Homo sapiens: one gene and its partner. The protein of the gene in region 1 binds, or shares a complex with, the protein of each later gene. Each region holds a gene or a part of one and is shown in the gene's direction. Other genes may lie near its edges. The genes, in order: PEX5 and PEX14.

Region 1 (12,200 bases):
GACAACATAGCACCCAGAAGTTTATTTACTGGACTTTAGCATATAAAGCCAGCAAGTCCATCCTTTTCTCCTTGCTCCCCTTCTCATAGGAAAAAGGCACATAGGATAAACAGGATCCATCTGTCATATTTTGTACCCAAAAAGACTTAATCCGGGACAACAAAAAGTTTAAGATCAATAATTAGGGCATATTCCTACAAAGAAAAAGAAGGACAAAGGCCCCAGTGGTCAAAAACTCTATCTCAATCCTGACTCAAAAGGTTACCTACACCCTCTCTGAAATGAATTTGCATAGGAACTGTTATTTATGGGAATGCATTTTCATGGGGCAACTGGGTTGTTATGAAATACTCAGGAACACAGCCCAGCTCTAGAACTCACCCCTGAGTGCAAAGGCAATGTTGGGCATGCTAGTAAAGGACCCCTAGAATCCAGCAGCCCCGACCCCTTTCTTTGTGGTCAAGAAAGGTGGGAAAACAGGTGCAGGACTGCTACATTGGTGAGCATAACTAATCCGATAAGCAGAGGTCCATGGGTGGTTACGCACCCTGGAAAGGAATAAGCATTAAGACCACCGAGGATGCTCTAAAACTGATGCGATGCGCATTGGAAAATGACTCGGGGTGCTGGCATCCCTATGTTCTTTTTTCAGATGGGAAATGTTCCCCCCAAGGCAAAAATGCCCCTAAGATGTATTCTGGAGAATTGGGACCAATTTGACCCTCAAACACTAAGAAATAAATAACTTATATTCTTCTGCAGTACTGCCTGGCCATGATATCCTCTTCAAGAGGGAGAAACCTGGCCTCCTGAGGGAAGTATAAATTATAACACCATCTTATAGCTAGACCTCTTTTGTAGAAAAGAGGGCAAATGGAGTGAAGTGCCATATGTGCAAACTTTCTTTTCATTAAGAGATAACTTGCAGTTACGTAAAAAGTGTAATTTATGCCCTATAGGAAGCTCTCAGAATCTACCTCCCTACCCCAGCATTCCCCCGGCTCTTTCCCCAACTAATAAGGACCCCCCTTCACACAAACGGTCCAAAAGGAGATAGACAAAGGGGTAAACAATGAACCAAAGAGTGCCAATATTTCCCGATTATGCCCCCTCCAGGCAGTGGGAGGAGAATTTGGCCCAGTCAGAGTGCATGTACCTTTTTCCCTCTCAGATTTGAAGCAAATTAAAATAGACCTAGGTAAATTCTCAGATAACCCTGATGGCTATGTTGATGTTTTACAAGGGTTAGGACAATCCTTTGATCTGACATGGAGAGATATAATGTTACTGCTAGATCAGACACTAACCCCAAACAAGAGAAGTGCCGCCATAACTGTAGCCCGAGAGTTTGGCGATCTCTGGTATCTCAATCAGGTCAATGATAGTATGACAACAGAGGAAAGAGAACAATTCCCCACAGGCCAGTAGGCAGTTCCCAGTGTAGACCCTCATCAGGACGCAGAATCAGAACATGGAGATTGGTGCTGCAGACATTTGCTAACTTGCGTGCTAGAAGGACTAAGGAAAACTAGGAAGAAGCTGATGAACTATTCAATGATGTCTGCTATAACACAGGGAAAGGAAGAAAATCCTACTGTCTTTCTGGAGAGACTAAGGGAGGCATTGAGAAAGCATACCTCTCTGTCACCTGACTCTGTTGAAGGCCAACTAATCTTAAAGGATAAGTTTATCACTCAGTCAGCTGCAGACATTAGGAAAAAAAACTTCAAAATCTGCCTTAGGCCCAGAGCAAAACTTAGAAACCCTATTGAACTTGGCAACCTTGGTATTTTATAATAGAGATCAGGAGGAGCAGGCGGAATGGGACAAACGGGATTAAAAAAAGGCCACAGCTTTAGTCATGGCCTTCAAGCAAGCAGACTTTGGAGGCTCTGGAACAGAAAGGCTGGGTAAATTGAATGCTTGCTTCCAATGCGGTCTACAAGGGCACTTTAAAAAAGATTGTCCGAATAGAAATAAGCCACCCCCTTGTCCATGCCCCTTATGTCAAGGGAATGACTGGAAGTTCTGCTGCCCCAGGGAACGAAGGTCCTCTGAGTCAGAAGCCACTAACCAGATAGATGATCCAGCAGCAGAACTGTGTGCCCAGGGCAAGCACCAGCCCATGCCATCACCCTCACAGAGCCCCGGGTATGCTTGACCATTAAGGGCCAGGAGGTTAACTGTCTCCTGGACACTGGCACAGCCTTCTCAATCTTACTCTCCTGTCTCGGACAACTGTCTTCCAGATCTGTCACTATCTGAGGGGTCCTAGGAGAGGCAGTCACTAGATATTTCTCCCAGCCACTAAGTTGTGACTGGGGAACTTTACTCTTTTCACATGCCTTTCTAATTATGCCTGAAAGCCCCACTCCTTTGTTAGGGAGAGATATTCTAGCAAAAGCAGGGGCCATTATACACTTGAATATAGGAGAAGGAGCACCCATTTGTTGTCCCCTACTTGAGGAAGGAATTAATCCTGAAGTCTGGGCCACAGAAGGACAAATAGACAAGTGAAGAATGCCTGTCCTGTTCAACTTAAACTAAAGGATTCTGCCTCCTTCCCCTACCAAAGGCAGTACCCTCTTAGATCCACCCAGCTCTCTGATGGACAGCCCAACAAGCCCCAACTTGGACTTCAAAAGATCGTTAAGGACCTAAAAGCCCAAGGCCTAGTAAAACCATGCAATAGTCCCTGCAATACTCCAATTTTAGGAGTACAGAAACCCAATGGACAGTGGAGGTTAGTGCAAGATCTCAGGATTATCAGTGAGGCCGTTGTCCCTCTATACCCAGCTGTACCTAACCCTTATACTTTGCTTTCACAAATACCAGAGGAAGCAGAGTGGTTTACAGTCCTGGATCTTAAGGATGCCTTTTTCTGCATCCCCGTACATCCCGACTCTCAATTCTTGTTTGCCTTTGAAGATCCTTTGAACCCAACATCTCAACTCACCTGGACTGCTTTACCCCAAGTGTTCAGGGATAGCCCCCATCTATTTGACCAGGCATTAGCACAAGACTTGAGCCAGTTCTCATACTTGGACACTCTTGCCCTTTGGTATGTGGATGATTTACTTTTAGCAGCCCGTTCAGAAACCTTGTGCCATCGAGTTACCCAAGCGCTCTTAAACTTCCTCGCCACCTGTGGCTACAAGGTTTCCAAACCAAAGGCTCAGTTCTGCTTACAGCAGGTTAAATACTTAGGGCTAAAATTATCCAAAGGCACCAGGGCCCTCAGTGAGGAACGTATCCAGCCAATACTGGCTTATCTTTATCCCCAAACCCTACTAACTGTTGGATGTGCCTCCCCCTGCACTTCAGGCCATACATTTCAATCCCTGTATCTTTAACCTCCTTGTTAAGTTTGTCTCTTCCAGAATCAAAGCTGTAAAAACTACAAATGGCTCTTCAAATGGAGCCCCAGATGCAGTCCATGACTAAGATCTACTACAGACCCCTGGACCTGCTAGGCCATGCTCTGATGTTGATGACATCAAAGGCACCCCTGCTGAGGAAATCTCAACTGCATGACCTACTATGCCCCAATTCAGCAGGAAGCAGTTAAAGCAGTCGTTGGCCAACCTCCCCAACAGCACTTGGGTTTTCCTGTTGAGAGGGGGGACTGAGAGACAGGACTAGCTGGATTTCCTAGGCCAACTAAGCATTCCTAAGCCCAGCTGGGGAAGATGACTGTACTCACATTTAAACAGGGTGCTTGTAACTCAGCTCACACCTGACCAATCAGGTAGTAAAGAGAGCTCACTAAAACACCAATTAGGCTAAAAGCAGGAGGTAAAGAAATAGTCAATCATCTATTGCCTGAGAGCACAGGGGGAGGGACAATGATCGGGATATAAACCCAGGCATTTGAGCTGGCAGTGGCAACCCCCTTTGGGTCCCCTCCCGTTGTATGGGAGCTCTGTTTTCACTCTATTAAATCTTGCAACAGCAAAAAAAAAAAAAAGAAAAGAAAAGAGTTTTAGACATATGACTTTAAGAGGATTAAGAAAATTGAATAAATGTTTATAAGTTTGATTTATTAAAGGGTTGAATAAAAGTTCAGAAAGGTTTTGCCTAGTAGTGTTGTTTGCCCTGTCAGGTATTTAAAATATGAATATTAAATGTCACATAGTTAAAAATATTAGGAAATTTGTCTTTTATTTCTAAAAAGCAGAAGTACAGCACAGTGTTTAAGAGCATGGACTCTGGAATAAGACTGTGTAGGTCAAAGATCCACAAACTATGGCCTGGTCCCTGTTTTTCCATAGTCTGCAAGCTAAGAAGTATTTGACGTTTTTTGGCTGGGCACGGTGGGTCACATCTGTAATCCCAGCACTTCAGGAGGCCAAGGGGGGTGGATCATCTGAAGTCAGGTGTTTGAGACCAGCCTGACCAACATGGTGAAACCCCATCTCTACTAAAAATACGAAAATTAGCTGGGCATGGTGGCATGTGCCTGTAGTCCCAGCTACTCGGGAGGCTGAGGCAGGAGAATCACTTGAACCTAGGAGGTAGAGGTTGTAGTGAGCCGAGATTGCGCCACTGCATGCCGGCCTGGGTGACAGAACAAGACTGTCTCAAAACAAATAAGTATTTGACATTTTTAAATAGTTGGAAAAACATCAAAAGAAGAAGAATATTTTGTAACATGAAAATTATATAAAATTCACATTTCAGTCCCCATAAAAAGCATTACTGGAATACAGCCATGCTCATTTGTTTAGGTGTGGCCTATGTCTGCTTTTGTGCTCCAACAGCAGGGTTGAGTCACTGTGACAGAGACTGCATGGACTACAAAGCCAAAAATATTGACCATTGAGCCCTTTACAGTTTGGTGACCGTGGTCTGGGTTCAAATCCCAGCTCTGCTATTTATTAGTATGACCTTGTGCAAGTCACTCAACTTCTCTGTGCCTCAGTTTCCTCTTTTGTAAAATGGGGGATAATAGTTATTATTAATAACTATTAGGAGGATTAAATAAATCAATAGTTGAAAAGTGCTTGAAACAATGCCTGGCACACAGTCAATGCAATGTGTGTCTAAACATCTATTGAACTTGAATTCGTCAAACATTAAAGAATAAGTAAAAATTATTTTTATTTTATAAAAATTACTACTTTTATGAATAGAACAAGAATTTAAAGTTGAACCTGGATTAACAAAATCTAGGGTTTCAAATCTAGAGCTTCAGTAAATTAAATATTAAACACCAAAGTCACTCTATTAGCCCTTTCCCAGCACCTCTGGCTGGGACTGTGGACCAAGTTCTGTGAATGATTCTATGGCCTAGGAGATCAAAGATCTCCATGGTTTATCAGTAAGTCTTCTCTAAGACTGGGAAGTAGGTGCCTAGAGTTATGCCTGGATTAAATTTTGACTTCCTAGCCATCTGATTTTGCACAAGTCTTATCTGTAAAGTGGGTCTACTAATATCTATTTAATAGGGGTATTAAGAAGATTAAAAACATTGAGATACATAAAGTGTTTTACACAACACCTGGATTTTAGTAAACATCAGTTATTATTATTAGCATTCTTCCAAGATCTGCACACAAAGTGAGTTACGGCTAATCAGTTGATAAACTCCTAGCAGAGCAGAAGGTTATGTGTGTTGTGATGTTTAAGTGGTACTGGGAAACTCTGGTTGCCTTGAGGTTCTGAAATTCTACTGTATCAGATGGGTTCCTTTAAACATTGCTCTCTCTAGGGGGTCCTCTTTTTAAAAGTATGCACCTTCTGGAGGGCATCTCTTCATCCTTGTGTGGTTTAGTTTATCAGGTATTTTCCTCACGATGGCAGCCTGAGAACAGGGGACGCCCAAGGGCTGGGATTTGTGTGCTCCGGAAGAAAACGGGGTGTAGAAGTGGGGCCTCTGAAAGAGGGCGAAAAGGCAAGGAAAAGGAGAAATGTTGCACAGTCTTATGGTCTGTCCCCTGCCATTCTGTTCCCCTGAGGTGTCAGAGCAGCTTCTCTGTCTTCCCAGGGATGAGTTTACACAGACATTCCCTGTGGCCCCCTGAGGCCTCCACCTCTGAAATCTGCAGAACAGCCAGGAAACAAGCCCGGCCCATGGCGCCACCTGCTGCCTGCCTGCCTCCGCTCATGCACCCTGGGCTGGGATGGTACTTCTGTTCGTCTGGCATTATTGCCCTTGGTCATTTACCGGCAGCCCTGGGCCCCTCCTTGCTCTTCTCCATGACACTAGGACTCCCTTGGTCTTGAAGCTGGGTGAGATTATCAGGGTTTGTTTCTCAATGACTTTGAGGTTTGACAGCAGAGCACACTCTTTGGCAGATGAGGGGGCTTGAGGCTTAGTCTTATTCCGTGATTAAAAGCATTTCTTGTATGTTTGTCCTTTCCCAGCCTGGAGTGATGGGAATAAGGCCACTATGTTGACTTAGCGGAAGGAAGGGCTGACTCACTGTTCACCTTCCCTGTACGTTACCAGCTCGAGGTCTCAGGATGCGTTGGACCCTATTTTGGTCTCCGGAATTTGTCATCATGCAGTGCTATTTTCCCCATTATGCAGAGGTGGAGAGGGATTAAGGCGGGGGCGGGCCCCTGTCTCCATGGAGACAGTGACGCTACCCCGCTAGGGGTTATTTGGAAGCGGGGCAGGCCTAGGAGGCTGAAGAAGGCTTCGGACTGGACTCCCCAGCCCCTGGTGTTAGGGCTTTTCTCTTTCTTGGGCTTGGGAACATTAGCCAGCCCCATTTTAGAGGGGAAAACTGAGGCTCAGAAAGGGCACTGAATCCCCTTAGGTCACAATGCGCCCAAGGGAAGAGGCAGGATCGACTGAGCCTAGGATCTCGCGTCTTCGGCTTTCCCCCAGAGCCTGGGAAGCCCTTCTTAGCTCCACTCTTCTTTGAGCTTTCCGTCAAACAAATCCTAGGGCCCGTGGCCTTTTCGAGCGCTCCTAAAGGCGACTCTCCAAGACCCGCTCTCTAAGGTGCTCTTCCCCTTTAAGACTCACGGCTCTTCCCGTCAGGCTGCGTCGCAGTCTTAAGGCCCCGCCTTTTCAGACAGCTTCCGCTGGGCCTGGGCCGCTGCGGGGCGGTCACGGCCCCTTTAAGCCTGAGCCCCGCCCCCTGGCTCCCCGCCCCCTCTTCTCCCCTCCCCCAAGCCAGCACCTGGTGCCCCGGCGGGTCGTGCGGCGCGGCGCTCCGCGGTGAGCGCCTGACCCCGAGGGGGCCCGGGGCCGCGTCCCTGGGCCCTCCCCACCCTTGCGGTGGCCTCGCGGGTCCCAGGGGCGGGGCTGGAGCGGCAGCAGGGCCGGGGAGATGGGCGGTGGGGAGCGCGGGAGGGACCGGGCCGAGCCGGGGGAAGGGCTCCGGTGACTTAAGGGGAGGGAATGCTCCTCTGCCGTGCTCACCGCGTGCTGGGGCTGCGCGGGGCTAGGTATGGTCGGGCTGTTTTCCCACTGTCCCTTCTTCGGGCAGTGTCGCCGTCCAGCCTGGTTGTTGAAGCGTCCCCGTGGTCCCCCGGGGTCCAGGCCCCTTTGTGGAGGCAGCTGCTGGCCCCCAGCCCATGGGACCGTAGTCGCGGAGGCCTCTGCAGAGGCGCAGGCTGGAAGCGGTGGCCTTTGAGGGGGGCGGCAGGAGAGAGTACCGACCTCCCTCGAACTCCTGGCAGAGGTGGGGGTCGCAGCAAAAGCACTGGGGTGGAGGGCGGCCAGTGTGGGGCAGACGCCTGTGTGCCTTCCTCAGATACGGGCAGAGTTGTGGATGTGAGAAGGGTCTGGCTTGGGTACCTCAGTTCCAAACCTCCTGTGTCCATCAGAGAGCTGGCGGTCACCATGGCAATGCGGGAGCTGGTGGAGGCCGAATGCGGGGGTGCCAACCCGCTCATGAAGCTCGCCGGGCACTTCACCCAGGACAAGGCCCTTCGGCAGGAGGGATTGAGGCCTGGCCCCTGGCCCCCCGGAGCCCCGGCCTCTGAGGCAGTGAGTGTTCTTGAGGTGGAAAGCCCAGGTGCAGCCTCTGAGGCAGTGAGTGTTCTTGAGGTGGAAAGCCCAGGTGCAGCCTCTGAGGCAGTGAGTGTTCTTGAGGTGGAAAGCCCAGGTGGTGGTGGTCTGAGGTGGAGGGGCTGTTTGCACATCTTGGTATAACTGCTTTCTCTATTGTGTTGCAAATCATAGTAGTTACCACTTACTGAGCGTTTATAAACACTAGAAAACCCTGTGCACCTTTAAATAAATGCAACCATTTTATAGATGAAGAAGCCGAGGCTCAGATGCCTATGGGCTTCATCAACCCCTGATTTTAGAGGAACTGCGTCATTGTACATCTCTGTCTTTCTCTCTTAGGCCTCCAAGCCTTTGGGAGTAGCTTCTGAAGATGAGGTAAATAGACCAGTCTCTTTTCTGTCCCATTTTTCTCTTGCCCACTGTGTTTTTACCTTTAAACTTAGTTCACCCGTATTTCAATTTTTGGGCTTTCCTGACCGAATGAGAATGCCTGCTTGTTTTTAAATGTATTTTTTCGTCCTTCTAAATCTATGGAAAGACAGTTTCTCTTTATGTGTCTCCAGTTTCTGTGTTTTCCTTTCCTTGTATCTAACATTGGGATCCCCCTCCAGTGGGTCCTGCCTCTTGCTGGGGCCTCCCAAGCCTATGGGTTCATTTCATCATTTCCCTTCTGGCAGTTGGTGGCTGAATTCCTGCAGGACCAGAATGCACCCCTTGTGTCCCGTGCCCCTCAGACCTTCAAGATGGATGACCTCCTGGCTGAGATGCAGCAGATTGAGCAGTCAAACTTCCGCCAGGCTCCCCAGAGAGGTGAGTCCAGAGTCTAGTGGGAGGGGAGATCGTTTTCCATGTAGCCAGGGCCAAGGAAGGGGGTTCCATTGGATGCTGCTGGCATTGGGGACCTGAGATGCAGAAGGAGACAAAAGTAACAGAGTGTTTTCACGTGGATTCAGGGTTCTTTAGGCATGATGGAATGGTATGTATGTATTCTTTCTTAGTTTTCTCTCTCTCTCTTTTAAGCCCCTGGTGTGGCAGACTTGGCCTTGTCTGAGAACTGGGCCCAGGAGTTTCTTGCAGCTGGAGATGCTGTGGATGTAACTCAGGATTATAATGAGACTGACTGGTCCCAAGAATTCATCTCTGAAGTTACAGGTGAAACTTGTTATGGGAAAATCTATATTGGCTTCTATGGGACAGAATTCTATACCCTTCCCCTGTTCACGTTATAGTGTGATTACGATTTTTCTGGTCTCATGACTCATTTCTAGAGGGGTAGGGTACTGAACTCAATTTCCCTTAGGTGATAACGGAATGTAATGTATATTAAAGAGAGGACTGGGTTTGTACTGGATAAGAGATTTTGGATAGAGAGAACGAAGAGTTTGGTTGGCCTTTTTACTTTATCACTGTGGTTTAGTGGAGAGGATCTACAGATTGGATGGATGGCAGTGTTGCCGAGGAAGAGAGTATTCACTACAGCACCTGGGATTCTGGCCTTAAGTTATTTGGAACAGAATTGGGGCCTTCAGAGTGTTATTGTGAAGTTCCAGTGCCTGAAGTGTATGGCTTTAGAAGGTAAAGACCATACCATGATGATGATAATAAAAATTAATAACAATAGTTACGTTCTAGGCCTTGTGTTACATGCTTTGAATGCATTATCTACTTACTCTCCATGAGAACCCTAGAGGTAGTTACTGTTTTTAGACCTAGTTTAAAGATAAGAAAATTGAGGCTTAGAGGTGAAGTGTGCCCAAGGTTACACAGCTTTGTCAGTGGTAGAGTTGGGATTTGATCCTGGATTTGAATGATTCCTGACCCTGTGGCCTTAACTGTGATGCTATACTGTCAGGCCTGCAATTTATCTTCTTTCTTGCTTTGCTACAGACTTAAAGGTTTCAGCCTAATTTTTCCTCTTTGAAAGCATCCATTGCTCCTGCATCTTTTATGATTGATTCTTCTTGCCCTAAGCCTATCTAATCAGGTACATGGTGGGAAGGGCAGTCTCTTCAGCTTTCCTCTTCCTGATTGCTCTCAAAAGTTAGCCTTTTTCCTGTTTAAGATATCAAGAATAACAAGAGATACACATAGAGAAAGTTACCAAGTTCCAGGATCTCGGGGAGTCACATCATCATGGTTCCTGAATTTTTCTGAGATGATTAAAGGGACTGAATTGGTTTCTACCCCCACCATTTTAATTTATGTTCTTTCTTCGTTTGCTACAGATTTCAAGGTCTCAAGTCTAATTTTCCTTGAGAGCATCCATTGCTCCTCGCATCCTTTAGGATTGATTCTTCTTACCCGAAGCCTATCTGATCAGGGACAAATGTGTGTGAAGGAGGCCCATGTTTAGGATGGGCTTCTCCGCACACAAGAGAAAAATCCCAAATCTAAAAACTAAAACTCACCTTTAATAAGATCTGTGGGTCTCTTTTATCACGTGTCTCTTTCCCACCCATAAGTTGGAGTTAAGGTAGAACAGTAGGTGCTCTTGGCTTTAAGAGTGCTAATCACTTTATCTTCTTAAGCTCATTAGAACTTCACAGTAACAGTAACACAAGGTGGATATCCCACCCCCATTTTATAGATGAGGAGACTGAGATTTGGAAAAGTTAAATACTTTGTGCAAAATCATTGAATAATAGAGATGATATTCAAACTCATGTCTGTGTGGCTCTTGAGATTCTTTTTTTTTTTTTTTTTTTGAGACAGGGTCTTGCTCTCACCCAGGGTGGAGTGCAGCGGTGCAATCTGTACGCACTGCAACCTCTGCCTCCTGGCTTCAAGGGATTCTCCCGTTTCAGCCTCCTGAGTAGCTGGGACTACAGGCGTGTGCCACCATGCCCGGCTAATTTTGGTATTTTTAGTAGAGACAGGGTTTCACCATGTTGGCCAGGCTGGTCTTGAACTCCTGACCTTAAGTAATCCACCACAGCCTCCCAAAGTGCTGGGATTACAAGCGTGAGCCACCGCACGCGCCCTCACGTTGAGATTCTTTGTGAAATTGCCGCAAGTTAAAATCTGAACCATAGCAAAGACCCTCTCCAAGACAGAAACTCAGTTTTTCACATAAACCTTAGACTTAAGTGCTATCTCTTATCACAGAGAGGCTTCTGTTGTAATGTGGGCATTAGTCATTTTTGATAATTCAGAAAAATCATTGCTACTATGAGCGTTGAGATGGATGAAATTTTTGCTGTAATTACCTGAATTGCATGCAGCCATTGAAATCTTCCTTAACTTGAAATGAAAAAGAACTTTAGAAAAACATGTTTTATCTGTCTCACCAGTTAAATGCTCTTAGTAGAGCTCTTCTAGTATTTTGTAGATTCTTTTGGAATCGTGCCTGTTTCACAGAGGCAGAGACATGCAAACCTTAGAATGGGAGTTGAGCTGTTTGAAGTCTGCCTTCATAAAAATGTCTTATTGCAGCAGTATATTGCTTTGCATGTAGTAGGCCTCTGGTATTGAATGAATGAATTGAGATCTGGGAGAAAAAGCTAAAGGAAAGGAGTTCATTTTGTCGTAACTGACTTTTTTTTATTATCCTTCATTTTTAATTACAGCATTTGTGGTTGATACAATTGTATGGGTTAGCTATGGCTTTATAGATAAGTAGATTTTGAGATGAAAGAAGGTTATACTTTTTAAGTTCTTATTTTAAAATCTCCACTGTTAAGAGTCAAAATCAAGTTTAAAAAGAATGTTGCAGCTCAATTATTTAAATTTAAATTTTTTATTTGGAAGTACTTAGTTTCACTGGAAGTTGAAAAAAAAAATGTATAGGAAGGTTCTGTATACCCTTCACCCAGTCTCCTCCAGTGGTAACATTTTACATAGCAGTTATGCAGAGATCAAAAATCAAGAAGTTGCCCTTGTTTCAATCCTCAGAGTTTATTAGGTTTCACCAGTTTTACATGCCCTTATTTGTGTGTGTGTGTTTTTTGCAATTTTATTAAATGTGTAGATTTGTGTAAGCACCATCATGATCAAGATACAGAACTATTCTCTCACCACATGAAGTTCATTTTTTTAGCTTACCTTATTTTGTAATGGAATCCCCCCGTCTTAAATCTTCTGGGTCAAATAATTCTCCATCTTGTGTTTGCTCAGATCTAGAGATAAAACACATCTTCAGGGTTCTTAAATTTAGACAGCTTCGGTTGACATGGTATGTGAGGTTCATATGATAATCGTGAGAGATAAACCTGCACTTTCATGGGAAAAGCCA
Region 2 (11,783 bases), on another chromosome or scaffold:
GCACTGTCCCCTTCCCATGGCAGTTTCTTAGACACCGAGTGTCACTGCACAGCCTGGGAAGGGAGTGGGGGAAGTCCTTGCTAACCATAACACAAACCCCAGAACCCATAAAAGAATAGATTGATAAATTTGTATAAAAACCTCTGCATGCGACAAAACACCATTAGCAGAGTCAAAAGAAAAATAAACCAGAGAAGATGTTTGCGATGCAGATCACAGACAGCGGGCTAATATCCCTGCTATATAAAAAGTCTCTCTAAAGTGACAAGGGAAAAGAAATCAAGTAGAAAAGTGGAGAGCATACAGTACACCGAAAAGGAAATGCTGATGAAAACATGCTCAATCCTCACTCAAAATGAGATCAATGCAAATTAGAACTAGAGTGAACTTCTGTTTTCCTGCTGTGGTATTGGCAGGAATCTCTGCGTTTGAATCGTGCATTGTGTGGGCGCAGCCGTGGGGAAGCAGGCATTGCGCAGCGGCTCAGGGTGAATTATCGGCCCCATGGAGGCAGGGTGGCAGTATTTCTCAAAACTGCAAATGCACACGCCCTGGGACCACCCTCTGGGGGTTCTGAGGCTCACAGGGTGCGTGTCCCCATGTGGGAGATGGCACGTGTGCACGTTGTTGATGGCAGCGTGGTGTGCAGTAGTAGAAAGTTGGAAATGAGCTGGGTGCCCATCGGAGGGCAGGTGAAGTGGAATATCCTGCAGCTGTAGAAAACAAGATTGAGAGATGGGGAAACGTGAAGGAAGAGAAGACATCCTGTGCCACCTTAGGTGTGCACACAGACTCACTGGAAGGATAAATGTAAGACTACTAATGGCTGTTGGTGGTGGGGAAGCCTTTTTTCACAGACTGCCCTGTGCTATTCGATGAGTAAACTGTATGCGTGCTACCTGTTCAAAAAGTGTAAAACAGAAATGGGAGTTGGGGACTGAGGGAGAGGCCCTATGTTGATTACAGTTTTGGGACCGAGATTCCAGGGCTAGGACACACCGGGGAGTCTCGCATGGAATCCGCAGGCAGGGAGGGAGTTTGGTGGCCAAGGAGGGACTCCAGGCCCCTCCAGCCCTGTCGTCTCTGCCCCCTGAGAGTGCCATTCAGCAGCCCTGGGGGAGGGGGTGTCTCCTTGCCCACTCGGAGGTCTTTGCGACTTGGATCCGCCTGGTGGGGCTGCGTGCCAGCAGCCCCTTCCCCCTCATGCCACATCCTGCCCTGAGCTGAAGGAAAGAACGGGCCTTCTCCTCCCCTGTGGTCATAAAACGCCAGGACATGGAAGGTACCTCTGAAAACTTACAGGCACAGGTGAGAACTGAGGGCAGAAGTCTCTCAAGCAGCAAGTCCTTCAGCTTCACTCGGCCGTGTTGTGACGTTCCTTCCCAGAGTTCAGAACGCTGCTGATTTTCCCTCTCCCCCTTTCTCCCAGATGAGCAGCACACTGTGGGGGCGCCTTCCGGATAGCTCTCCACTGGTGCTGTGATCGCCTTCCCCGCTGGTCTGTGTCCCACCCACGCCCCTCCTGATGACAGATCCTTCGGGGGGAGGCAGAGCACCCGCCACGTGGCCTGGAGATGGCCGCTCCAGAAAGGTGTTCGCAGTGGAGACGGGGCTCTCCCGCGTGCCTTGGAGGATCAGATGAGGTTGTGGACGTGGGAGCACTTTGTGAACTGGGCATGGGAAAGAGTGAAGGTGGAAACTCTCCCCACGTCAAGTAGAATTGCATTCAGGAGGGCACTTTGCTATGTGCCGTTCTAAAGAGAATCGGCCGGGCGCGGTGCTGCTCGCCTGTAGTCCATCTGCTTGGGAGGCTGAGGTGAGAGGATTCCTTGAGTCCAGGAGTTCCGGGCTACGGGGCACTGTGCTGATCGGGGTTCTGCACTAAGTTCTGCATCAATATGGTGACCTCCTGGAGCAGGGGACCACGAGGTCGCCTAAGGAGGTCAGAAATGGAGCCGGTCAAAACTCCCATTCTGATCAGCAGTGGGACATGCCTGTGGATCGCCACTGCACTCCAGCCTGGGCAACATAACAAGAGCCCATCTCTAAAAAGATTACTTAATACAAATAAAGAGAAGAGAACGGGGCCAGGTGATCTTCCATGAAGACTGGCTGCCCTTCACAGCAGCAGCAATGTGTTCTCCTGAGACATTGCCCCACTCCCTTCTTGCCCTCTGTGCTGGTCCCAGTCCCTCTCCACCTCGTGAACCCTTGCAGCAGGCTCGCCCCAGCTCTTCTGCCTCTGCGGCCCCCACTTCTGACCACCCTCAGAGCCTCCCCAGTGCTGCTGTCCAGGGTCATGGCACTCCCTGATTCACATCCCCCAGTAATTCCCATTGCTTAGGAAAGAATATTCGGCTTCCTTGACCACACAGTCCACCTGGTGCCACCTGTCTACCTCTTTCCTGCCCCGCCCCAGCCCCCACTGTACCTGCGGCTTCCTTGGCTCCTCTCCGTTCTCCCCAGCACCCTGCTCTTGGGGTCCTCTGGGCCAGAGCAGCTCTCCTCTCTAGTCAGGCCCAGGGTGCTCACCTGGTCTACACCCACCTACCGTCTCTCTTTTGTGCTTGCTCCCCTCCAGCCCCCAAGGGCCTCAGGGCTCCTCCAAGGCCCTGCTGACCCCAGCCCCTCTCCCCTGCCACCCCCATCCCTTTTGATAGGCGTTCTCATTCTCTGAAGCCTTGCTCAGTCATTTGGAGACTTGTGTTTTCTCTCCTCTGGCTCCAAGCGAGAGCAGGGCTGGGAGGTCTAGTTTACCACAGCCCACCCCCGTGCCCCCACCCAGCGTACCACGGTCCCCCTCTCCACTTCGCTGAGGCCCCGCTTGGTTCTGCTGTGGCCCCCAGCTTATCGCCAGCTATAGTAGGGCATATATGGGTATATTTATGCTCCCCTAAACATACTCCTGTTATCCTCTCTGGATCTTTTGTTCCTGAGGTAGAGACCATGCTGTTGGTCTTCAGATCACCTCTGCCACCTGACTGCCAACTCAGGTCTCAGCTCACTGCTAGATACCTCCACCCACAGCCTGCAGTCAGGGTTGGGTGACTGGCATCCCTTGTGTCCCAGTTGAGGCAGTGGGAACAGGAGGGGTGGAGCCGGCTGCTGTTGTGATGATCATGTGCTGCCTTCCTGCGTTGGAGTGTTCCACTTGCCCATTGTTGGAGGCGAGGAGACTGTGCCACTGAGGCACCTGTGCCAGCCCCCACCCGAAGAAGGACGCCATGTGCGTCTTCTAACCCTCCTCCTCTTCCCGCCTGTAGGTCCCGCAGGCTCCCGATGGCGAGATTACGGCGCCCTGGCCATCATCATGGCAGGCATTGCATTTGGCTTTCACCAGCTCTACAAGGTGAGTCACCCCCAGCGGCTGCAGGTGCTGTGCCCCTGCCACCCTGTGGCATTCAGCACCCTTTCACTGGTTCCCCTGCATGGAGGCACTGCCGTGCTCTGCCCTGGAGTGTGTTGGCAGTGAGAGGCTGTGGTAGAGGTCGGGGTTCACAGCTGGATCCAGGCAGACCCTGCCCTGCTGTGGGGCTTGGCAGGCTCTGCCCACCTTTTCTCCAGTGCTCAGCATATACCACCCAGATCTCCACTTGCAGGGGCGTCGTGAGGTCTGTCCCTTGCCAGCCCATGTCAGGCACTTACAGTAGTGCCCGCACGGGGAAGCCGTGCGAGCAGTTTTGAGACACAGAATAACATAATGGCGAAGAGCATGGACGCTGGGCCAGCTGCTTTGCTGAGCCCTGGCTCTGCCCCTCAGGAGCTTGGTGATCACAGGCTCTGGTCTGTAAAATGGGAATAACAGTCCCCACTTCACAAGGTTGTCGTGAAGTCCGGAAGAGTCAGTCTCCCTTGTAGAGGACTCAGAGCCATGCCCGGCACATGGAAGTGCTTTATACACCATTGTTCTGCCACAGCATTTAAGAGCGGCGGTGAGAACCTCAGTGTCATCAGATGTATGGGAGCTGTTCTTTTTGCTCTGTCTGTTGTGCTGCCATCTATAGAAATCTAGGATTTCCCAGGCTTCTCAAGTCAACTTTCAGGATCCCAGGTTCATTGCTTGCAACAGAACTGCAGGCATGACGTGAACATTGACTCCCTTGTGAAGGCCCAACTTGGACGTGAAGCAAATGAGTCTAGAGTCTAGAAAATGCAGGCCAGGGTAGGTGCCCAGTCCAGATCTTGGGACCCTGTAGAGAAGCCTCTTTTCTTTCGAGGCTGCCAGCTCCTCCACCCCTGATTGGTGATTTTTTTTTTTTTTTTTTTGAGATGGAGTCTCGCTCTGTCACCTAGGCCGGAGTGCAGTGGCATGATCTCGGCTCACTGCAAGCTCCGCCTCCTGAGTTCAAGCAATTCTCCTGTCTCAGCTTCCTGAGTAGCTGGGATTATAGGCGTGCTGGTGCATGCCTGGCTAATTTTTGTACTTTTAGTAGAGATGGGGTTTCACTGTTGGCCAGGCCGGTCTCGAACTCCTGACCTCAGGTGATCCGCCCACCTCGGCCTCCCAAAGTGCCAGGATTACAGGCTTGAGCCACCGTGCCCGGCTGGTGATTTTCTTTTTTAAACAACCTGAATGAGCACTCAGACTCGCCATGGTCACTCTTAGCACATGAAACATGGTCAGCCATGGTATTCCAGATTCTTCATTTTTGATGTAATACAAAAGCTAATGACAGTTGTAGCAGAATATAATTTTTTAAGTGTAGCATGTATTCCTGGAGCTGGACATTTCCATGTTAGAAATTGAGAAACAAGGGCTGGGCGCGGTGGCTCACGCCTGTAATCCCAGCACTTTGGGAGGCTGAGGCTGAGGATCCTGACTTGATCACGAGGTCAGTAGATCGAGACCATCCTGGCTAACACGGTGAAACCCCGACTCTACTAAAAATACAAAAAATTAGCCCAGCATGGCGGCGGGCACCTGCAGTCCCAGCTACTGGGGAGGCTGAGGCAGGAGAATGGGGTGAACCTGGGAGGCGGAGCTTGCAGTAAGCCAAGATCATGCCACTGCACTCTAGCCTGGGTGACAGAGCAAGACTCCTTCTCAAAAAAGAAAAAGAAAAAGAAAAAGAAATTGAGAAACAAAACATCCTGGGTTGGCCCAGGTGCCGTGGCTCACACCTCTAATCCCAGTACTTTGGGAGGCCAGGGCAGGCAGATTGCTTGAGCCCAGAAGTTTGATATTAGCCTGGCCAACATGGTGAAACTGTGTCTCTACCAAACAATAAAATAAAATAAAATAAAATAAAATAAAATAAAATAAATAAGCTAGGCATGGTGGTGTGAGCCTGTAGTCCCAGCTATACTCGGGAGGCTGAGGGTGGTGGGAGGATCACTTGGGCTCGGGAGGTGGAGGTTGCAGTGAACTGAGATCACACTACTGCACTCCAGCCTCGGCAACAGAAGGAGACCCTGTCTCAATTTAAAAAACAAAATAAGCCAGGCGCAGTGGCTCATGCCTGTAATCCCAGGACTTTGGGAGGCTGAGGTGGGCGGATCACTTGAGGTCAGGAGTTTGAGACCAGCCTGGCCAACAAGGTGAAACCCTGTCTCTACTGATAATACAAAAATTAGCTGGGTGTCATGGCGTGCACCTGTAATCCCAGCTACTTGGGAGGCTGAGGCAGGAGAATCACTTGAGCCTGGGAGGCATAGGTTGCAGTGAGCCTGCAGTGAGCCGAGATTGTGCCACTGCACTCCAGCGTGGGTGAAAGAGCGAGACTTTGTCTCAAATAAATACATAAATAAACAGAACAGAACAAAAACACCTCTTGGGACCCGGTTCTTCTCCCTCTGAACTGGTGCCCCCTTCAAATCACTGACTGTATACAAGCACCAAGAAGAATGTGACACGAACGCCAGAGTCCTCAGATGAATGCCCTGGCTGTAATGAGCAGTAGGCACTGTCACATGGCCACCCATGGAGGGCCTGTGGCCTGACGGGAGCGGGAGGGCAGCTCGGCAGCCCGCCTTAGCGTGGGCACTCACACGGAGCTGCCACTTGTAGTTTCTACGAAGCTCTGGGCTCTCCGCTCTGTTTTAAAAAGAAAAGAAACATTGCAATATCAGTCACAATGGTAACAAGAGAATTTCTAAAGCATCTGCTCAGTTTCTCGAAATTAAAAAAAAAAAAAAAAAGAAATGGTAAAAAGCCCTCGACTGGCTTTATAAGCACGTGAAGACTTTGGCTAGGGCAGCGTGTCTGCTCCTGCCCTTAGGACTTCTGATCTCAGAAATGGGGTGTTTAGTTGGTTACACACACATATATGAATTCTTTTTTTTTTTTTTTTTTTTTTGAGACACAGTCTAACTCTGTTACCCGGGCTGGAGTGCAGTGGCATGATCTCTGCTCACTGCAGCCTCTGCCTCCCGGGTTCAAGCGATTCTCCAGCCACAGCCTCCCGAGGAGCTGGGATTACAGGCATGCGCCACCACACTCAGCTAATCTTTATATTTTTAGTAGAGACGGAGTTTCACTGTGTTGGCCAGGCTGGTCTCGAACGCCTGACCTCATGATCTGCCCACCTCAGCCTCCCAAAGTGCTGGGATTACAAGCGTGAGCCACCGCGCCCGGCCAAGAATTCTTTACCTTTCTTGCTGAGGACATTTCATCCTGAAGTGTAAGGCTACCTTTGATGAGTTTTGGCTCAGTTGTGGGTAATAGCTCACACTGTGGTTGAAAAGCACTTTGCAAAATAGAAAATGCGTCTATACATGTGCTGCTGAAGAATGATCTTCACTTAGGAGTCACTCTGGAAATGAGTTCCCACAAACCCCTTGTGAGAGAGCTTCTTTTCCTTCCCTGGTACAGAAACCGTAATGGAGAAGTTTCCGTCCTCTTTCCTATCTGGGCCCAGATAGATTAAGAACCAAAGTTATCCCCGGGCAGCTCCTGCCAGGCTTGCACTGCACTGCCTCTGGCAGTGCCCACTGAAGGGGGCAGCGGGTCTCACTCCTCACCTGGGGGGCTTTGTCTCCATGTCCCGAGTGGCTGGACGTCAGTGCACATGTTCCTACACGCAGCTGTCCCTGCAGGCCCCACCACCCACCTCCACCCCTCCACACCCTCACCTCCAAGGCAACCAAGAGCACCAGTTGCCAGCCCTGCCCTGCCTGCCCCCTTCCTGAACGGCTCCTTCGGGCATCCCTGGTTCTAGGCCCCTGTGAGGGGTGGCCCTGCCGCATTCACTTTCTTTTTCCCCAGAGCCAGTTTCTTCTGGTCCTGCGCCTTCCTCTCCCTTCTGCCTTGTGTTTCCTTCTGGGGAACTCGACTTCTTTTGACTCTTACGTGAAGGAAGTTTGTTCTGAGGATTCAGGCTTCATTTAGAAAAAGACTGAGGTGACCTCTTCCAGCAGCCTCAGAGCGCACATGTTATCCCCTGGCGAGAGAACCAAGGGTCCCAGAAATGTGTTGTTGATTTTCCTTTAGTTTCTCCAGCGATGTTTTGTTTATTAATTTACTCGTTTGTTTCTGAATAGGTGATTCACTCACAGGTTCAAAATGTTCACAATTCAGGAGAACATGCCGGGAAGAGCTGCCCCGCCTCCCTCGCCTCCTGGAGGCTCCAGCATTATCTGTTGCTTGTGTGTCCATCCACATTTATATCTTACAACTTTGACAGTAGAGTTTATAACTTTGTGTTACAGAAATAGTGTAGCATCACTAAGAAAAGTAAATAAAGGAACCAAAAAGTTCCCATCACAGCAGATCCAGCTGACTCTCCCTGTCCACGTTCCCTCCTGGTCCTTGTCCTTATTCAGGCAGAATTTTTACGTGGTTGTAATCGCAGTCTCATAACTTTTTCAAATATCTTGTTCATTTATGGTGTTTGCTTAGGGTTTCCAAAACCCAGGGATGACAGGGAGAAAGTTGGGCGGCAGAATTTGAGAGATTGTTGGAGGATAACCCCGGGTCCGTATGCATTCCTCACCCTGTCCCGCTTCTTGCAGAAATACCTGCTCCCCCTCATCCTGGGCGGCCGAGAGGACAGAAAGCAGCTGGAGAGGATGGAGGCCGGTCTCTCTGAGCTGAGTGGCAGCGTGGCCCAGACAGGTAAAGATTAATGACTCCATCAAGTCACCCCTCACAGCCTTCTCCAAGCAGCCCCTTCTCTGCCCCTCCCCTCTCCCTCTGTCTCCACTCTATGTGGTGACTTCATTTATCTGCTCTGAGAATCTGTTCACATTTGCAAATGAAGCCGCCGTCATTTCGGTTTAATTTGAAATTGCTTGTTTACTGTCGGCGCGGCCTCAATTAATTATGTTTTTACGGAAAGGCTCCCAACCTCAGAATATTAATAAGGGGAATAAAATGACAGCCTTTCTAAGGGCTGTAAAGTTCATTTTTAATTTCTGCTTCTATGAGGTTTTCAGGGGGGTTTTCAGTGATTTTCCCCCTTCCCTCTAAGACTCGACTGTGGGGTCAAGAGAGTCTGTAATTACTGTGGCTCCCGGGACCCCAGCCACCTCCCCTGTTATCGACTCAACAGGGCTCGCGTTCATTACCCAGTGCCCCAGCGATGGCCCAGATTAGCTGGGACCTGTCGCGCCAGAGGTGGCTTCTCTTCTTTATAAACTTGTTTACTAGACGGCAGCTCTGAATCTAAAAACCAGAGCAAGGCCAATGAGAGAGCCACCTGTCCCAGGCAGGAGTCTGTGTCCCTCTGGAGCACGTTTGTGAAGCTCACAGAAACCCTCTGACACGTCCATCCTGCTGCCGTTTGCTCCTGCGAGGCTGACATTGGTGGCAACAAGGTCCTGAGGGGTCACGGGACACCAGGGAGTTGAGCAGGCAGCTTGGGTCAGGTGGGGAGGGTGGGAAGGAGCAGTGGGAAACAGGACGTGCGGCTTGAGCCACTCCTGGATGTGAATGTGGCGGGGACCTGAGATGCATCTCTCCCAGCATTGGAGACCCCAGGAGTTTCACAAGGACACTGAGGCCCAGGAGATGAAGGACGCAGGCGCCAGAGAAGCCGGGAGAGCTCAGCAAATCATAGCCAGCTCTAATTAGAGGGGAGAGGTTCTGGACGGATATACTGTTGACCATGGACAACTACACAATGGAAAGATAAAGTAGAAATACTAGAGGTTAGATACAGTGCAGGCAGATCACCCAGAGTGCAGATAAATTAGATGGATTGCGGGGGCTGGGGGTGTCTGCAGATAAATTAGATGGAGCGGGAACACGGGCAGCTCCGAGGTGTGCGGACCGAGCGAGGGGAACGTCTGTGCCTGTGAATTTGCCAGCGCCGTGACTGCTTTCTCCTCGCAGTGACTCAGTTACAGACGACCCTCGCCTCCGTCCAGGAGCTGCTGATTCAGCAGCAGCAGAAGATCCAGGAGCTTGCCCACGAGCTGGCCGCTGCCAAGGTACCTGTCTCTGCTGCACAGGGCCCTCCAGGCCCAGGTCTGTCCCATGTGCCCTTCACTCTTGTCCCTTGGGCCGGGCTTGCCACCTTCGGGAGCTGGACTTTGCCCCAGTCTCACAGTGGTTACACAGCCGTGGCCGATGCTGCCCTTTCTCTCCTTGTAGAGACAGGAGGCTGTTGCTGGGCAGTCAGTGTGACGTTTAACTGTCGAGGCCATCCTTTCTCTCTCTATGTCACCTCCCAACAGGAGGAAGGAAAAGCTACCCTCTGCCTGTGGAGATCTCATGGCAGCCACATCCCCGCAGCTCTGGAGGCTTTCTGTGTAGACATGGGACGGTCTCTACCTATAAGTTAGGTTGCAGGTCACAGCATGGCCAGGAGGGGTTCTGGAACAGACAGGGGAGAAGCGAGTCGCAGTCAGTTCACCAGCACCAGCCCCATCCACACCGCAGTGCAGCGGGCAGGTTCTCTAGACTCAGGTTCCATGGGTTCTGGCAATCCTAGGGAGCCAGAACCAACTCCCAAGGCAGTGTCCTTGCCTCACTGCCCAAATGTGAAGAAATCTTGGCGTGGCAGCTTCCAGGATCAGGCTGAATCCTGGTCCTGCCACTTGTTAGCTGTATGACCACAGGCAAGTTACTTAACCTCTCTGAGTCTTAGTCTCCTCATCTGTAAAATGGAGCCATAACGGCACCTAATTCCTGGGGCTCTTCATGGGTTCAAGAGGGTGCCTGGCTCCAGCCAGCTCGCAGGATTGCAGGCCTAGGTTCTGTGGGTGGGTAACAGAGGTCATCCCTGAGGCGGTATCAGACAGACCGGGCCCAGGAGACAGTGGCCTGGTAGCTCCAGAACACCCACTGGCTCCTCTCTCTGTCCCTTGTCCCACAGCTCTGTGGCCGGCGGACACTGCTCCCTGTCTGCCCCCACAGCCTGGGCTCTGGAGAGTCCCATCCCGAGTTGCTTACCCAGGGAAAGCCACTCCTAGCGTACGAGTTGGCTTGAGCCAGCACTCAGATCTTTTGCATTTGCAAAAACCATGAAAATGACAATCTTTCCATGGAGTCTGGGGTGTCTCTTGTGAAGAGGGTCCCAGGAATCTCCCCCCTGGATATCCAAACCACACACAGAGGTGCCACCTGCTCTTCCTCCTGGGATGGCTGTGGGTACTGGTGACCACCTCCAGCCACTGCAATGCGTGTTCTCCACGGGTGGCCGGTCCCTAAAGCACCAGGAAGCCCAGCGACAGCCCTGCCTGCTCTCCTGGGTCAGGTCATCTTTTGGATCCATGCTCTGCCTGTGGCCAGAAGCCATTCCGGAAATTGGAAAACTGTTTTCAGGCCTTACGCCTGAGATTAAGACCACATGTTGTGTTTAAGAAGCAGTGGGGGCCCGGGATGTGCTTGGTGGTGAGAGGGGTTGGGCCCCTCAGAGTCCCTCGAGCTGGCTTTGCTGCCGCTGTCCCTGGCCCACCCCAGCCTTCTCTCCCGAGCTGCATGGGGCCACTGGCTTGGCATCTAAACGCGTATGTGTGAGGACTTTGGTTACCCCATAAACCAAAGACCCAGAGCTGTGTTTTCTCAGCTGTAATGTAAGTTTTTATATCTGGCTTCCAAACTCCTACTGGAGCACTGTAAAAAATTAAAAAGAAGAGCTTTAAGTAATTAAAAAACCTACATAAAACTGAAGGCTATGAGTTTTCTACAACTGTTTTTTAAAGAGGCTGGCTAAAAAGCCCCAGATGTCAGATTTTATTTCTAAATCCTGGCATCTGGCACCATATGCGTTTGGAAATCTGAGTCCCTTGTAGGCCAGTGAGTGGAAATTGTGCCCTTGTTCATGGGCTGCTGTAGCTTTCAAGGTCTCAGAGAAGCCAGAGCCGTGGCTCCTGGGTCCTCCCTGTCTGGCGGTCTGGAGTAGGAACCCTGAGGGGCTGTGTCTGGGGGTGGTGGGTGACACGCACTCACTCTCAGACTGCCCGGGTTTTCCTTCCTGAGACCTACAGGCCCTCTGAAGGACTTCTCCCTGCTAAGGTGTGCCAGCTGGACTGCTTGCTGGGGTGAGCCCACAGCAGCCCCCGACCCCACGTCAGAGGCCAGGCCTCTGTAAGCCAGCCAGCGGCCCACAGCACACTGGTAGGGAACAGCCAGGGAACGTCCCCTCTGCCCACCTCGGGGGAGCAGTATCAGGAGAGCTGGCAATATTCATCTGTGCACTTAAAGATGGCCTGGGGTGGCCTTCAGCCTGGGCGAGGTAGACCTCACACGGAGGCCTCGTGGCATTGTCCTCTGTGCACATGCCACAAGCAGGTTGCCACCAGCAGCTCGCATTTGGGGACCTCTGGTTTGGCTGTCCTCTTCCCCGTCTATACCAGCAAGATTTTCCAGAAGTAAGATGTAGTTCTGTGAAGTTTATTTG

The links.
Region 2: the proteins of PEX5 (region 1) and PEX14 are in contact, whole or in part, in an NMR structure (PDB 4BXU), measured with the Homo sapiens proteins. Residues at the interface, in NP_001124497.1 of Homo sapiens: Glu59, Leu62, Val63, Glu65, Phe66, Leu67, Gln70; in NP_004556.1 of Homo sapiens: Thr31, Phe35, Asn38, Arg40, Val41, Ser44, Pro45, Thr48, Arg49, Phe52, Lys55, Lys56.

What each region holds. Positions count from the first base shown.
Region 1 is NC_000012.12:7,182,580-7,194,779, forward strand, and holds the start of PEX5 (peroxisomal biogenesis factor 5), read left to right. Parts: upstream 1-7,106; 5' UTR 7,107-7,171; exon of another isoform or gene 7,172-7,354; coding exon of another isoform or gene 7,355-7,401; exon of another isoform or gene 7,402-7,782; coding exon of another isoform or gene 7,783-7,798; coding exon 7,799-7,945; coding exon of another isoform or gene 7,946-8,035; intron 8,036-8,308; coding exon 8,309-8,344; intron 8,345-8,646; coding exon 8,647-8,779; intron 8,780-8,989; coding exon 8,990-9,121; intron 9,122-12,200.
Region 2 is NC_000001.11:10,615,069-10,626,851, forward strand, and holds part of PEX14 (peroxisomal membrane protein PEX14), read left to right. Parts: intron 1-1,767; exon of another isoform or gene 1,768-2,047; intron 2,048-3,263; coding exon 3,264-3,349; intron 3,350-7,950; coding exon 7,951-8,053; intron 8,054-9,271; coding exon 9,272-9,369; intron 9,370-11,783. UniProt on the Homo sapiens protein: Component of the PEX13-PEX14 docking complex, a translocon channel that specifically mediates the import of peroxisomal cargo proteins bound to PEX5 receptor.